Regions from separate parts of the Homo sapiens genome. Here region 2 is linked to region 1. The links come from fine-mapping of genetic effects on gene expression. Tissue or cell type: whole blood. Region 1 holds a variant in brackets; the other region holds the start of a gene. All regions are shown on one strand. Distances are from middle to middle.

Region 1 (8,206 bases):
CACATAAGGAAGTGATGTTTGTACTTATAATGACAGATATAGATTTGAATTTAGGAAGTTGGATACTGTGGAAAGTAAATTACTATGTAAATAGTCATTCTGATTATATTCTCACATAAAGAAAAGAGTAGGGAGAAGGAATTTGTTCCAATTAACCTCGTGCAGACTGCTGTAAACTGGGAGCCACAAAATAGCAAGAGCCAAGCAGTTGCCCTACATGTAAAACATGTCCAAGTTTAAGCCTGGAGAGGTGGAGAGGAGGAGCCTCATTCACCTGAACAAACTCAATCAGAATTCAGAGGCTGCTGAATTTACTCTTTAAACCACATGATTATAGGTGTATAATTATAATGTGGCTAAGATGCCTCATCAGACCAACTGGTCTGAGACCTAAATAGTTCAATCAAAACCGTCAGAAATAGATTCTATAAGAAAAGGTATTTTCTAAGCTTTTGGATTGAAGGACAATCAAGCATAGGCACTATCCATGAGACATTTCAAGTTATTTGAAGTCCAGAATATGTAAAATAAATAAATAAGTGAAGAAAGAATAAACAATAAACAAGAAAATTAAAATCCTACTATTAAATTTGTTACGTGAATTCCTCATTATAAAATTGATAATATTTTGCTCATCTTCTTAATTTTACATAATTTTCTTTGTAAAGAAAAAATGTTTCTTGAATCATGATGTATTTTATTAAAATCTGTCAAAAATTAAAAAGTCACATTTTAATATGTATATATTTCCAAGTACAAACAGTAGCTGTAACTAACTTAGAGTTGACTAAAATAAATTGATTTTCTTGACAGATTTCTTATCCTAGTGGACAAAATGTGAACTGCTAAAATTAAAGTGTTTAAAGGTCTTAAAATGGCTGCCTCCAGCACAGGAACTTAAAGGAGATACTAAGAACTTTGCTCATATGTTAACTTGCACAATAACTTTTTATATCTTGAAATAATAAAAATGTGTGCATAAACATGTATCTAAATTGGAAACTTTGGGTTCTATAGGAAGCAAATACACAGACAGGTATAGTGGTTTTGAAGTTGGGGCTGAAGATCAATGCCTGTGAAGATAAAAGGGAAAGGAAGCAAGATTGGGCAAATTCGAAAAAATTTTAACCAACCCAAAGGGGATCTCTGAGTCCCGCCATAGGCCATCCTAGGCTCAGTCATTGTCTGGGGCACACTGAGAAGAGGTCAGCCTTGGTACAAATGCTGCAGGTGGCCCCAAAGATGCTATGGCTGGAAGGTGTCAACCAACTGTACTCCTCACAGGTGAAAGGCAGGTGCTTTCTTGTCACACCAAATAACTTCTTAAAATTTACCTGATAAAGTTTATTTTGGAGATTTTATTCTATCTACCATGCACAAACTTTCAGAAAGGCAGTTGCACTACCGTCAGAAGACATGGAATACAAAATTGTTCCCAGAAACATCTATATCACTTGTGGAGTACGTTAGTTGCAGAAATCATCTATATAAATGAAATATTATAGTAAACTACCATATTATTTTAAAGATATTTTTAAGAAGAGTATTTTATTGCTATAAATTTATTCAATAAATTCAAATTTATAGTACATATTTATTATAAATTTTAATAATAAGAATAATAAAGGCTATTTTCATGAACACAGACATTCGGAATTGGAGGTTATGGATGACAGTTACAGTAATATTGCCACCTAGTCTGTTTGTGCTGCTACAACAAAATACCACAGACTGAGTAATTTACAAATAAAAGAAATTTATTTGTTACAACTCTGGAGACTGGAAGCTCAAGACTAAGGCATTGGCATTGGTCTGCTTAGGGCCTTCTTGCTACATCCTCACATGGCATAAGACAGAGGGCAAGGTAGCCAAAGGCTGTGTGAAGCTTCCTTTGAAAGAGCTTTAATCCCAGTAAGCCCTCATGGCCTAATTACCTTACAAAGGCCCAGCTTCTTAAAATCATCACATTGGCAACACCTGAATTTTGAAGGGACCACATTCAAACAATACCACCACCTTCACATCCAATGTATTTTGAGGTTTTTTTCTATTGCATAGAACCTAGGAAATCTTCTGATGATTAGTTGCAACTGGTAACCATTTTTGCTACTTAATAATCACAGGACGCATTCAACAAAGTAAGGATGGTAAGAGAAAAAGTTTGGTGCAAATAAAACAATATGTCAGTAATTTCAAATTGTTAATATTTGGTAAATACTTTTAAGAGTAATGTTGATTTTTTAATAACTGAAGTATATATAAAAATGAAGACTAGATTAAAACTATGCAGAAATTCTGAACCTCACAGTTCAAAAATTATTATTCCGTGCTATAATGGGGGATCCACAGCAATAACTTTTCTAACTCACTAGTGTTAAAAAGGCTTGAATACTCCTGAATAGCAATTTATATGCTGGAGGAAATTGATGAAATGAGTGGTTAATAAATTTCCCAGCTTCTGTTATGATGCACCAGATCTTTTTAAGTGATGTTCTTAATTTAGCAATGAAATAAAAAAATCAAAGAGAGAGAAAGTGAGAACATTATGTTTACATGTAAACAATTTGAAATTAATACCTTATTTTCAGACACCCATAATTAATTATTCTCTTAATTTTATGCAGTAAGTGGCAAAGAGATGGGATAAAATCTTGGTTTGATGCTTCTGTAAATTTATAGAATACTGTGTTACTGCTTTTTCCTCTTCTTTATGCTATTTTAAGTAAGGTCAGTTGTTGTTCTTTCTAATTATTATTTTACACATTTGGAGGATTCCTAGAGCATTTTTTTTCTCCCAATAAATCATCTCTGTTCACTAATAGGCAAAGGGTCATAAACTCTTCTATGACTATGGGAGATTTAAATCTCAACAACTGTTTCCTAACTGCAGACAACTTTATTAAGAAATGAATGGAAAAAGGAAAAAATATAAGACTGTAAATGTGTTACCTCAGTAACTAGTGGTTGCCTATTTCTTTGCTTTCAGCTTCATAGGGCAAATTGGTGCACCCTACAGAGATTTGCAGGTGGAGGAGCAGGTACTCTTTACACAATTATCTATGGAAACCAAATTTAGACAATAATGGGAGGACACAGCAGAAAGATGGATTTCTGTGAGCCCCAATTCATGCAATTCCAGTGCATTTGTGCACTCTCTCTGTCTCTGTTTCTTTCTCTGTCACACACACACATACACACACACACACACACTCTTACATATTGTCCCACCAAATTTGCCATTAAGGTTTTATGCTACTTACTTCCTGACCCTGTTTCAGAGCAGAGGTCCTTAACAGGTTTCAAGTGTGCTGAACTGTAAGTCTTCATAGCACCTAGGACCCTTGCTGGGAACCCAGGGCATACATGGCAAATGGTGTTTCTCCTCAACCCTCTCCTCTCAGTTCTGACCTGAGACTCAATCTTCCTCCATGTACCACAGCATAACTTACCAACGTTCCCATTTCCCATTATGTCATGTGTTAACTTGAGAAACTCTGTGAAACATTAGAGATCATTAGCTTAATTGTGAGACCTATTTGCTTCAGTGTTGAGTTACCCCTTTTACCTTAAATCTGTGCATGTCACATCAGTAAGAGGAAATTTAATACAGGTCAGGAGCAATTATATGCATATTTCTTTAGTGTTGATTATCACATAATTTACAAAATCAGATTCTAAAATTAGTCATTCATTAAATGCTTACTGAAGATTAACCTAAATGCTAGTTTTCAGGCATACAAAAATTAAATATTCAATTATTTTTATTATTTTTAAGATTTTTAATAAACAATGTATGGCATCATAACAGTTGTATTATTTTTTTT[A/TA]ATTTTTATTTTTCAACTTTTGTTTTAGATTCAGGGGATGCATGTGCAGGTTTGTCACCAGGGTATATTGCATGATGCTGAAGCTTGGGGGTGCAATGAACCCATCACCCAGGTACTGAGCATAGTACCCAACAAATAGATAGTTTTCCACCCCTCGGCCCCTCCCTTCCTTGCTCCTCTAGTAGTCTCCAGTGTCTATTGTTTCCATCTTTATGTCCATAAGTACCTGATGTTTAGTTCCCATTTATAAGCGAGAACATGTGGTATTGAGTTTCCTGTTCTTGCATTAATTAATTCATTTGGGATAAAAGTTTAAAGATAGAAGAATTGCAATCAAATTAGAATTAATGCATTTCTTTAGCAAAATTATATTTACTTGCCTATTTCTTTGTCTTTTTCTTTGAATATATATAGTTTTCATAACAATTCTTTTTTTTTTTTTTAATTGAGATAGGGTTTTGCTCTTTCATCCAGGCTGGAGTGCAGTGGTGTGATTATGGCTCACTGCAGCCCTGACCCTCCACATTCAAGCAATCCTTCCACTTCAGCCTCCTGAGCAGTTGGGACCACAGGTGCATGCCACTACAACTGGCTCGTTTGTTTTGCTTTGTTTGCCTGTTTGCTTTTTTTTTATAGAGACAGGGTCTCCCTATGTTGCCCAGGATGGTACTGCCTTGGCCTCCCAAAGTGCTGGGATTACTGGTATACACCACTGCACCAGGCCAAATTTTAACTACTGTATACATAGATATCTATATATTGCTTTTGCCAAGCAACATTACTAAGCATTTTCTGTGTTTCTTTATATTCTACCTAACTGGCCCTATTGATGGTTGCATAATTGTCCATCAAGTTGATATGCCATTTACAACCAAGTTGATATGCCATTTTGTTAACCATTGAATAAATATTCCTAAATCAATATATGTTTAGTTAGCTTCGATTATCCTAGTGTATAACACCAACATGAGTGTCTGGATATGTGTAAACAACAATGTATACATATCAAAATGCAAAAGCATAAATATGATTCTCAATAGCTTTTGTCAAAACATTTTCCAAGAGTTGTACTGAATGTCACCGCCACCAGTGATGTATGAGCATAACATTTTAACAGCACTTTCGTCATCAGTGACTCTTTGCTATTAACTCTTGAGTTATCTTTAGTTTTAAGAAGACTGGTGGTAAAAAGAAATCCAGTTCTTTTTTCAAGCCCCATGTTGAGTTTTATCAACAACCTTTCTCTCTGACCCTTTATCATAATGAGAGCAGCAAAAGCGGCTGGTATTCTGTGCCAAGCCTTTTATTTCCTCATGATAAAATTATTTTTTTTTTCCTTTTGACTTGTCTGAAAAGCCAGACTAATGTCACCTGGACCTTAGGGCTGCTCAACCGCAGCAGGAGGACACCAGGGAAGCCCAGGCAGCATGCACAGTGATGCCTGACTTTGCAATAGTAAGTTTCTTCTCCTCCAGGATTTGTCAATTTTGATTTTGCAGCTCAGTCAGCAATGCCATGTGCTGTTTGCCTCCTGTCTGAGTTACAAAATAAAGAGTCATTTTCTCTTCCAAGGTGACAAATTTAAAAAAATAAAAATAAAAACCTTTATCTTTCCATGTCTATTATATTTTCTACCTGGATGACATACACTTTTGAGCATATGAACCATAGAAACTCTGAGGAAAAGGAGATATTGTAGAAGCTGGGCATGTTACACCATCTGCTCCTACATGAACAGAACTCCCCTCAAATATTAACCATCATTATTATTATATGAAAATGGTGGGTAATAAGGAGATAAAATGTATAGAATAAGGACAAATTTCCTTAGGATTAATTATTAATATTGAAATCTGAAATTTTAGGAAATGTAAATAGTCTAAATAGTAAAATATGTTATGTCTTTGATCGCTAATAAAATGATAGAAGTTTTAATGCAGATTTATCAACCTTTTCTTCTGGGATTGCTTGCTCATATATTGCTTATGTTCTAAATTCTAAGACTCTGTTCCCCTTTGTTTTTGTTTTTATTATTGCTATTTTAACATGATTTTTAACTGTTAGCACACAAACCATACATATGCATTGTTGAAATATTCACAAATGCAGAAAAATAACAAAACAAGAAGAAGATCACCTATAATTCCACTGTTTAGAAATATGCATCATTAGACATATGGGTATTGTTTTAGTCCATTTTCACACTGCCAGTAAAGACATACCTGAGATTGGGTAATTGATACAGGGAAGAGGTTTAATGGATTCACAGTTCCACATGGCTGGGGAGGCCTCACAATCATGGTGGAAGGCAAGGAGGAGCAAATCATGTTTTACATGGATGGCAGCAGGCAAAGAGAGAGCTTGTGTGGGGAAACACCTCCCTCACTGATAAGTTGTGATCCTCTGTATCAGCTTCTGTGTCTCTAATTTTATGGGCAATTTTTTGCTCTGTGAAACCAGAAGAGACCAGGGGCATTGCAAAGATTGTAAATATTGAAGAAAATGATCTAGAAGAAGTATGTAGTCAATGCCTGGCAATATGTCAATTTCAGGAAGGGTGAGAAATTATTAAATAATTGTGGTCATTTATTATCTATATATTGAATATCTCTAATTACCTTAGGATAGCATCCCAGATGTAAAATTGGTAGGTACATCTAGAGTTACAGCCCAACAGGTTCTTCTTGCCCACTGCTCAGAAAATCCAAACACTGGGAACAACAGGAGTTTCAGTAAGAGAAAGAGTTCAAGAATTGTAGGGCCAACCGAGGTGGATGGTGGGAGATTTTTCACAAATCCACCTCCCCAAGAGCTCAGAGGTTAGGGTTTTTTAAGGAAAATTTGGAGGGCAGGGGGATGGGAAATGTGTGCTGATTGACTGGGGATGAAATCATCGAAGTGTCCAAACTGACTTTGCATACTGAGTCAGTTTCTGGGTTGGGGGGGTCACAGAACTGGTGAATCAGTTCCTTGGTATGAGTCATGGGTCCCGTCCGGGTTAAGTCAATCAGTTGCCAGAATGCAAAATTCTGGAATATATCTCAAAGCTCAATCTTAGGTTTTACAATAGCGATGTTCTCCACAGGAGCAATTAGAAAGTTAGAAATCTTGTGACCTCCAGCTACATGACTCCTGAAAAGTAAGAGATTATAGAAAAGCAAGCTAAGGAACAAGGGGTCGCTATTTAACTATACCTACATCTTAGCAGAACTCAGGCCCCTCTCGTAATCCTATCCTTGTGGCCTTTCATTAGTCTTACAAAGGTGGTTTTAGTCCCTGGAGGGAGTCAGTTTTGGGAGGAGTTGTTATCATCCCTGCTTCAACGTTAAACTATAAACTAAATTCTTCCCACAGTTAGATTGGTCTGTGCCCAAGGATGAGTAAAGGTAGTTAGCTTTTGAGGTCAGAAACAAGATGGAGTCGGGTTAGAGTTCTCTCATTGTTATAATTTTTACAAAGGTGGTTTCAACAGTCTTTTAGTCTGGTTATTATGGTAAAATATTATTGAACATTTCAAATTTATTTCTTCCAAAAAATATGAATTACATGTATCCAACTGCTGCTTGGAATATGCAAGTATTATTGTTGCCATGCTGTGTATGTTTGTAAAGTTGATCTTTTCCACTTTTCTTTCTGTTTATTACCTTCAAAACTTCTTCTTTTAATTTTAATATCTATTTTAAAAATGTCTTCATATTTCATAATGTAGTGATTGTGTAATGACTTAGCAAAATGGACCAGGTATCTCTGGTTTAGCCAAAAAATACAAGAGAATATAGCTTATCTAAAATTATGTTTTAAAGCAGAGAACTGGTTTTGATATTAAATATTGGTAAGAACCTTTCTTATTTTACTACTTAGCTTAGTCTGGTCACAAAAGAAAGACTTTCCAGTTTTTAAATATTTATCTTAAATAAATTGTTACCAATATTTGCTTTCTTTTTTTCAATTAGTATAGATTCCAAGTTATTAATGTAAATTTAAAGTACATGCTATAAATGAGTGATAAGAAATGCTCACTTCTGATGTGCAAAGGAGCCCTCAGTAAATCACCTTCAAGATTGAGGAAAGTCCTTGTTTCTTATTCAATAGGCTTAATGTAGAAAAGGAAACAAAGAATAAAGGAGGAAAGGGAGGGCAGAAGAGAGAGAGAGAGACAAAAGGAGGAAGGAGAACCAAGTGCCAACTCTTCACATAGCATACACACATTCCAAATCTGGACATAGCTTTCAAGAGATAATAAGAGGACTGAGAAATGGTAGAGCCTTCACAAGCATAATACTAGTTTCCAATATTTAACTAGTAAATTTTTGGGAAAGGAATTACTGCATAGACTTATTTTCTTCTATGTATGAGATCTAATAACTTCTACTCCTTTTATT
Region 2 (8,145 bases), 400 kb after region 1:
TGGTCACAGTGGCTCACACCTGTAATCCCAGCACTCTGGGAGGCCAAGGCCAGCAGATCACTAGGTCAGGAATTTGAGACTAGTCTGGCCAACATAGTGAAACCCCATCTTTACTAAAAATACAAAAGATTAGCAGGGTGTGGTGGTGTGCACCTGAAATCCCAGCTACTCGGGAGGCTGAGACAGGAGAATCGCGTGAACCCAGGAGGCAGAGGTTGCAGTGAGCCGAGGTCACGCCATTGCACTCCAGCCCGGGGGACAGTGCTAGACCCTGTCTCAAAAAAAAAAAAAGTTACTTCTTTTTTCTTTCTGCTCTCTGATTTTCTTTTTCATTGCTAATGATTTTCAACGAGGGGGATATGTAATTTTAAAAGGTATATTTATATAGTCTAGTTTATCTTTAGTTGGTATAAATCATTTGCCTTTTAAAAAGCATATTTAGTATTATTTTATCCTTCAGAATCTTTTTAAAAATAGCTTTGAGACATAATTCACATACCATACAATTCATCCATTTAAAGTGTACAATTAGTTTTTAGTATATCCACAGAGCCATGAAACCATAACCACAACTAATTTTAGAAAATGTGTACCAAGAAGAAATCGCATATCCACTTGCACTCACTCTTCGTTTCCCCTGCCCTCCAGCCCTAGGAAGCTAAAAATCTGCTTTCTTTCTCTGTAGATTTGCATATTCTGAACATTCCATATACATGGAATCATATAATATGTGGTCTTTTGTGAGTGGTTTCTTTCACTTGCTATGTTTTTAAGGTTCAACTGTGATGTAGCACATTATCAGTAACTCTTTGGCTTTGTAATGCAAACTATTGAAAAGCAAACATGTGACATGAGACTCAAATACCAAGAAAGAAAGGTTTCAAAATATTTATTGAGGATCTCCTATTTGCCACCGTTAGCTAGTAAACGCATATGGATCATTCTCTAATTGTTATCTTCATTCCTACATGATCTATTAGGCACCAGAATTACATTTCCAGCTGCCATATTGACTTGGGTATCCAGGAGCTGACACCTTGAACTTAGTTCTCCCTCTTTCAAGGCCTTCTTTATTTTTGCTAGACAGAATTCCCCCAGGCTCAGAAGTTCAATCTTTAATTCCCTTTTCACTTTCATATCCAATCAGTCACCAAATCTTATAAACTCTATTTCTCAAATATTTTCTCTGTTTTGGTGTGTCAAAAATGTTATGGGTTGAATTGTATTTCTCCACAAAAAGATACACTGAAGTCTTAACCTAACATTACCTCAGAATATGACCTTATTTGGAAATATAATAATTGCAGATATAATTAGTTAAGATGAGGTCATACTGAAATAGGGTGTGTCCTTCATTCAATAAGGCTGGTGACCTAATAAAAAGAACACTATGTGAAGAGACAGAGACACAGGAAAATGCCATGTCACAATGGAGGCAGAGATCCAAATGATGCAACTATAAGCCAAGAAATGCCAAAGATTGCTGGCCATCACCAGAAGCTAGGAGAGAGGCATGGAATAATTCTCCTTCAGAGCCCCCAGAAAGAACCAAACCTGTGGACACCTTGATTTTTAGCCCCTAGAACTAGGGTAAGGTGACAAATTTTTGTTGCTTAAATTACCTAGTGTGTGGTACTTAATCACTACAGCCCTAGGTAACTAATACAGACACTAAATGACTTCATAATAGTTTAGGCATTCATTATATCATGCATCCCAAATCTTTATTTCATCATTTTATCTGCTACCCCAGACCAAGCCATCATCATTTCATGCCTAGGCAATGTTAATCACCTCCTAATTGTCTCCCTTGTCTCCCACAAGAATGGCACCCCTATTGCCATTCTTGTATCCTTATAATTCATTTGCCACATAGAATATTTTAATAATTAAACCATATCATATCAGTGTTCTGCTGAAAACTCTCCAATAGCATCCCTTAAATGGACATTAAAGGGCCTATATGAACGAACAGCTGCCTAGCTCTTGCACCACAATTCCTGCCACTCCTCATTACACACCGGGTATGCTAGATTTTTTTTTTTTTTTAAAAGACCAATTCAATTCCTCCATTGCACGAACTCTGCCATTCTGGAATGCTCTTCCTCTCATGGCTCATTTCTTCTTGTCATCACACTTCAGCTTAAATGTCAGTTCTGAACGGCCTTTCTTGACGACCGGAACTAACACAGATATTTGCTCAGTTTTAATTCTCGACAATGCACTTACCACTATCTGACATTGTTTTGTATTATTTTATGTATTTCACTGGTAATTGTGTCTCCTCTCCCTCCTACCCCCAATAGAGTATGACAACTGGGACTTGTCTTATCATTTATCCACAGTACGTGGGAAAATGGCCGGCACATGGGACTTCAATAAATATGTGCTCAATGGTGAACCACCTAGGTAGGCAGATATGTACGCTAGGATCGTGCTCGTGGGGAGCTTAGGTTCTAAAGGGAAAGGTCAATAAATAGGAGAAAAACAAACACCTAGATTCTGTTAACTGTTGCATAGAAGAGATTGAAGTTATACAGAAGACACTGAGGAGTCTATAATCAGAAGTTTCTCAGGTATGAGGTGACATTTTTGCTGAGGCTGGAATGAAGGCTTGGAAAAAATTAAGCAAGTAGAGCTCAGCTCCCTGAAAATTTCCAACAGAGAGAACAGCAAGCAAATAATCTTAGAGGCTATTATACAACAAATTCACTGAGTTCCAGGAAAGTCAGTGTGACTAGAGCATAGTAAAACTGGAAAATGATGAGAAAAGTGGCTGGAAAGGTAGTCAGGGTCCAGATTATACAAGCCTTGTTAGAGAATGATAAGCTGTTTCTATTTTACCCTAAGTGAAATACTATGCTATTTAAGTTGCTAAATGACATCGTCTGATTTACTCAGTGTAGAGTCTCACCAAACTGTGTCCCCAACCACCAGCATCAGAATCACTTCTGAGCTTGTTAAAAATGCAATCTGAAGCACCACATCGGAACTCAATTAAGATCCCTAGGTGATTCATATGCACATTAAAGTGTGAGAAACACTGGTACAGAGAATGGAGTAGAGGTGAGAAAGAGTAGAAGAGGGGAAGTCAGTTAGAGAGCTACATTCTGGTCCAAGTGAAGGAAAACAGTGGCCTGCATAAGAGTGACAGCAGGAAGGATGAGAAGACGGATTCTAGGTCACGTTTTGCAGACAGTTTGTTTAGGTCTCCTAGCCAGCTAAATGGAAATCTCAGTAGACAGGCAGTGATACAAGCCTGGGTTTCTGAAAAAAGTTTAGGCTTGGAGATGTAGATCTGTGGGTCTGTTATTAATAGTTGTCCTGCTTCGGGTTTTTATTTTTTTTTAATTTTCTTCCTTTTTTAGTGCTTTATATTTTACAAATGTCTGCAGCAGTTTTTTGTCATCTTTATGGAAAACAAGGCACGTCTTAAAGTCGTTCAAGTCCTTCACTTTTTCACACTGAGGTCTGTCTTCATATCCACTTATCTTTCAAGTCTATGAAACCCCTTATAAAAACTTTCCTTTGAAATATTTTAAAATTCAAGGCCCACGGCTGATTAATACTGTTTCTCCTCCATAACCCCTAGGATCCTCCAGTTCTGGGTTTTAACAAGAAAAATATCCTCAATCCTCTCTAGTTTCTAGGTGTAAAGCAGCTTGGACCCTCCTGGGTTTGGTGGGTCCATCTCTCTTGGAGTCCAACTCTGTATTCCTAAAAAGCAATTATTGAAATAGAAGCTAGTCAGTTAATGGCAATAAAAGAAGGGAATTCCAAGTGGGAGCTTCCCAAGCCAAGAGGAAGAGAGGTTTCTTGCCTTATCACTGTAAGTGGCAGAGTGGAGTTCCAATTCAATGATATCATTTGTGTTATCAAAGGTAGTTTAATCGTTGAAAAGCTTGTTAACAATTATAAACACAGGCAAATGCCTTTTCCTTTTTGGCCTTACGGAGAATGAGAAAAGTTCTTCCCATGGCTAAAATTCTTAGCTGTTGGTAATGCAGAAAAGAGTACCAGAACAGCAGAATTCCAACGGTATTCCAGGATTCTGTGTCTTGGTTAATTTTAAATTCACGTGACCTGGCAAACTTAGGAGAGTCCTGGTTGTAAGAGGTATTAACATTTTCAGCAGTAGTACTCTAGCTACACTTGACTGTTCCCCTCTCTGTGAATTTACATGATATGTTTGAAATACTGCCCCTCAAAAGTCTCAGAACTTTGAGAAATACGGTCCTTTCCAAAAAAACCCCTTATGTCCAATTTGAAGGGGTCGCTGTCAGTGGGTGCTTAAGTGGGTAAAGAAAAGCCAAGAATATGTCAGGGTGAGGAAGGCCAAGGCTGAGCGAGGTCAGCTTGGGACCCACCTCCTAGAATGACCTCCGCCAGCAGGAAAAAACCGTTAAGGGGAGGAAAGGGCAGGTCCCTGCGGCCTCCAGGTGCCAGCCGCGTGAGTGGGCGGAGAGGCCTCGGTGCCTCCTACCCGCTCCGGACGTGCGTCCCGGCATCACCCCGGGATCCGCTCCTCCCCGCTGGCGGGGGGAGAAAGGGCAGGAGGCCTTCCGTCCCGGCTATAAAGGGCCCCGGACCGCCGCGGCTCGCCTCGGCTTGCCTCGACACGCCTAGGCGCCCTCCGGCTCCGCCCTAGCCGCCGCGTCCCAGCTAGAGCTCCAGCGCCCGCTCAGGCCCCACTCGACCTCTCGGGCCTCGGCTACTTGGACTGCGGCGGAATATGGCGGCTCCGATGACTCCCGCGGCTCGGCCCGAGGACTACGAGGCGGCGCTCAATGCCGCCCTGGCTGACGTGCCCGAACTGGCCAGACTCCTGGAGATCGACCCGTACTTGAAGCCCTACGCCGTGGACTTCCAGCGCAGGTACCGCCGGAATCCCACCACCCCCACTTAGACAGGCAGCCCGCCTCCCAGGAGCCGTCTCGGGACACGGGCCGCCCCTCGGCCCTCGCGCGCCAACCCCGCCCCAGGCGGGGAGGAACCTGAGTGGGCGGGGCTCGGGGTGACTCGGGTAACCGGGTTCTGTGGCTTCCGTAGTGGCAGGTTTGACAGCGCTGGTGCCCGGAGCGGGCGCTGAAGAAACTTCTTTCCTCATCCCCTTTCCCCTCTGTTCTAATCAGCGGTCTTGCGCCATAGGGTACGTGCTGTGGCTCCAACACTTATTCCCCAGAGTGCTGCTGGGGAGTGACTCACCGCCGCTGCAGGTTTTCTGACTTTGGCACCCACTAGCGTGGGCCTGTGGAGTAACGTGGGCATAACTCCTGGCACGTGTAATTACGCATTTAAAACTTTCTAGTTTATTTCATAGCAAATGTTGTGATTTTATATCTAAGAGGATTCCTTCAGGCAGACACTATATCCTTTTGTTTTTTCCTTGCTAATATTCCTCATTTAGGGGAAGATTACACCTACATTGATCAATTTTTTCTCCCCTTGGATCAACATTGAGAAGTTAAATGTACATCAACATTTGTCCGTGTGTGACTTTAACCATCTTGAAGAGGGAGAAAGGTCAGGAAAGCAACTTTTACAGGCCAATGTCGTTTTAGCTTGTCTTCTACCATTGTGTACCATACAACTTTAGTTACTGGGCTAATAATTCTATTCATAAGTTCCACTAAAAAGGTACAGGTCTTTTTCTGTTGTCGTTGTTGTTTGAAGTAAAAGAGCTATTATACAAGTTGTAATAGTTATACTTGTGAGGTTACCCCATTTTGATTTAATAGTTTCTCCCCTTTTAGGAGAGACACTGCAGAATGGAAACTATCCTGGCAACAGAATATACATGGCCAATTTTTCGAGTGATGGAAAACATCCAACTAGTTAACTGGCATGAAGGAGCGTTGAGAGTAATGAAAATGGGTTGATTTGGAGTTTGAAAAAAGCCCAGCAAATTGTTTGTGTCCTAGCATTTTCAGGTATTAAATGCATTCAAATCAGCAAGTGTTTATTGAGGAACTCCTATAAATAAAACACTGCTCTAGGGATTGTAAGGGATGTGAAGTTTCATTCTTGAGCTTGTATATAGTAGTGAATGAGGCCTCTGTAAAATAATCACCTTGAGCTGTCCCTCACTTAATCAGATGATTATGCTCTTATATAAACCATATGAGGAGCAGCCTTGTGAAATTGTTTTCAGAATTTACAGTATATGCTTTCAGAGAAACTTAGTGCATAATCGTCATAGGTTTAAGGTTGGATTTGATTTAGAAATAGTCAGAAAAAATTTAGAACAAAAGATAGTGATTAAAGGTAGTGGTTAGATTTTTTTTTTGATGTCCTTGTAACCATGACATTAATTTACCTGTGTGCTTTGTAAAAGGACACTTAAGATATTTATTAAAGAAGAGTTGTGGAAATGTTTTATCTACACCCCCTTCCTTTTTTTTTTAAATGACACAAACAGATTAACATTCTTTATTAAGTGTTTCTTTCATGTACTTTATTTCCAACTCCACTGGGATTGAAGCATTTATAATCTTCTTTCATGGTTTGCCAAAACTAATGAAGGGAACAAAGGCCAAGATAAAGAAGGGAAGAGAATCCAGTGTGCTTGGTGAAAAGTCTCGTCCAGTGGGCCCTCATGCCTCACTCTGACCCGGATTTTACTTTTGTCCTTGGTTCTGAGTAATGGCCATTTGCTAGCATACATGTTCCATTTAGGCATATCAAATAGTAATTTGGCATTTGTTAGTGGTAACTTCTATTGTTAACACTTGAAGAATAAAACATTTTTCCTTCATACAATCTGGTCTTAGTTCCTTGTCCAATTTTCCATTTATTTCTGATAATCCATTTGGACTGTGTGTCTTTGGCCTAACACAAATACATAACCAGTCAAACACTTAGGTGCAAAGTATGCTTACTAAGGAGTGAAGAAAATTTGAGGTACAAACAACAGTATATAATTAAGGTGATGAAGAAGGAAATTTCTCTTTGATGGACTGTCTCATCCTTCCCCAACAGATATCTTTTGATTTGAAATTTTTTGGATGTTCCCTTAGGATGTTTTGGATGTTCCTTCCCTTCTTTACCTTGGCCTTTTCCCCTTCTGTATTAGTCCGTTTTCATGCTGCTGATAAAGACATACCTGAGACTGGGCAATTTACAAAAGGAAGAGGTTTATTGGACTTACAGTTCCAAGTGGCTGAGGATGCCTCGCAATCATGGCAGAAGGTGAAAGTCATGTCTCACATGGTGGCAGACAAGAGAAGAGAGCTTGTGCAGGGAAACTCCCCTTTTTAAAACCATCAGGTCTCGTGAGACTTACTTACTATCAGGAGAACAGCGTGGGAAAGACCTGCCCCCATGATTCAGTTACCTCCCATCAGGTCCCTCCCACAACACGTGGGAATTCAAGATGAGATCTGAGTGGGGACACAACCAAACCATATCACCTTCATTAGTTGTTCTTTTCACCTTCTGTACCTGTGAGAATTTTGAATCAAGTGTAGAGGATTAATGAGTTACTCTGCTATAAAATAAAAATTAGTACATTATTAGCATGACTGACCACCTCCATGTTGTCTCATTGATGACCTCCCAAAATAGCATTTTCCACTTGATTTTTCTACCTTTTATTTAGTTATTTACTTGTTGTTACACTACAATTAGTTGTTATAATTCCAAAATCTTAGTGCTTTAAAACAACATTTAATTGTTCCCATATTACATGTCAGCATGAGTCAGCCAGAGGGCCCTCCTCATGGCAGTCACTCAAAAATCTAGGCTTATGAAGGATTTGTTTTGAAACATGCTTCTGTAGAGGTGGTCACAGTGCAAAGAGAAGCATGTTGAACTATGCACTATTTCTTACAGCTTTTGCCTAGCAGTGAGTCCATTCTGCTGATACGTTACATTGGCCAGTGCCCATCAGCTTGCCATGTGGGTGAAACAGAGAATTGGCATTTGTGAACATTGTCAAAACAACACAATTTAATAATACTACTTTATACCCTCTGTTTAATGTTTATAAAGTACTTTCAGATCCGGTATTTAATGTAATCCTCATAACAAAACCATGAGGTAGACAGACGGTGGGCATTTTTCCTGTTTTGCAGATGAAGAAACTAAGTGATGGGCTTGAGCATATATGGCATAAGTAAGTGCTGCAACTGTGATTAATCTTTCTTT

Evidence for each region. PIP is the estimated chance that this variant, and not a neighbour inherited with it, causes the effect.
Region 2: it holds the start of GBE1, and the variant in region 1 is fine-mapped to the expression of GBE1 in whole blood (TOPMed, PIP above 0.99).

What each region holds. Positions count from the first base shown.
Region 1 is chr3:82,156,734-82,164,939 of GRCh38, reverse strand. The region is part of intron 1 of LINC02008 (long intergenic non-protein coding RNA 2008); the gene reads right to left. Among named protein-coding and RNA genes, the nearest start is that of LINC02008, 170 kb to the right of the region's middle. The variant A/TA (reference allele first, on the strand shown) is at 3,825.
Region 2 is chr3:81,758,105-81,766,249 of GRCh38, reverse strand. It overlaps GBE1 (1,4-alpha-glucan branching enzyme 1), which reads left to right and starts at 4,605. Exons shown (of 16, transcript NM_000158.4): 1 at 4,605-4,875. The coding sequence starts at 4,733. RefSeq lists silencers at 4,377-4,476, 4,977-5,056, 7,638-7,932 and enhancers at 4,132-4,740, 4,527-4,816, 5,157-5,326.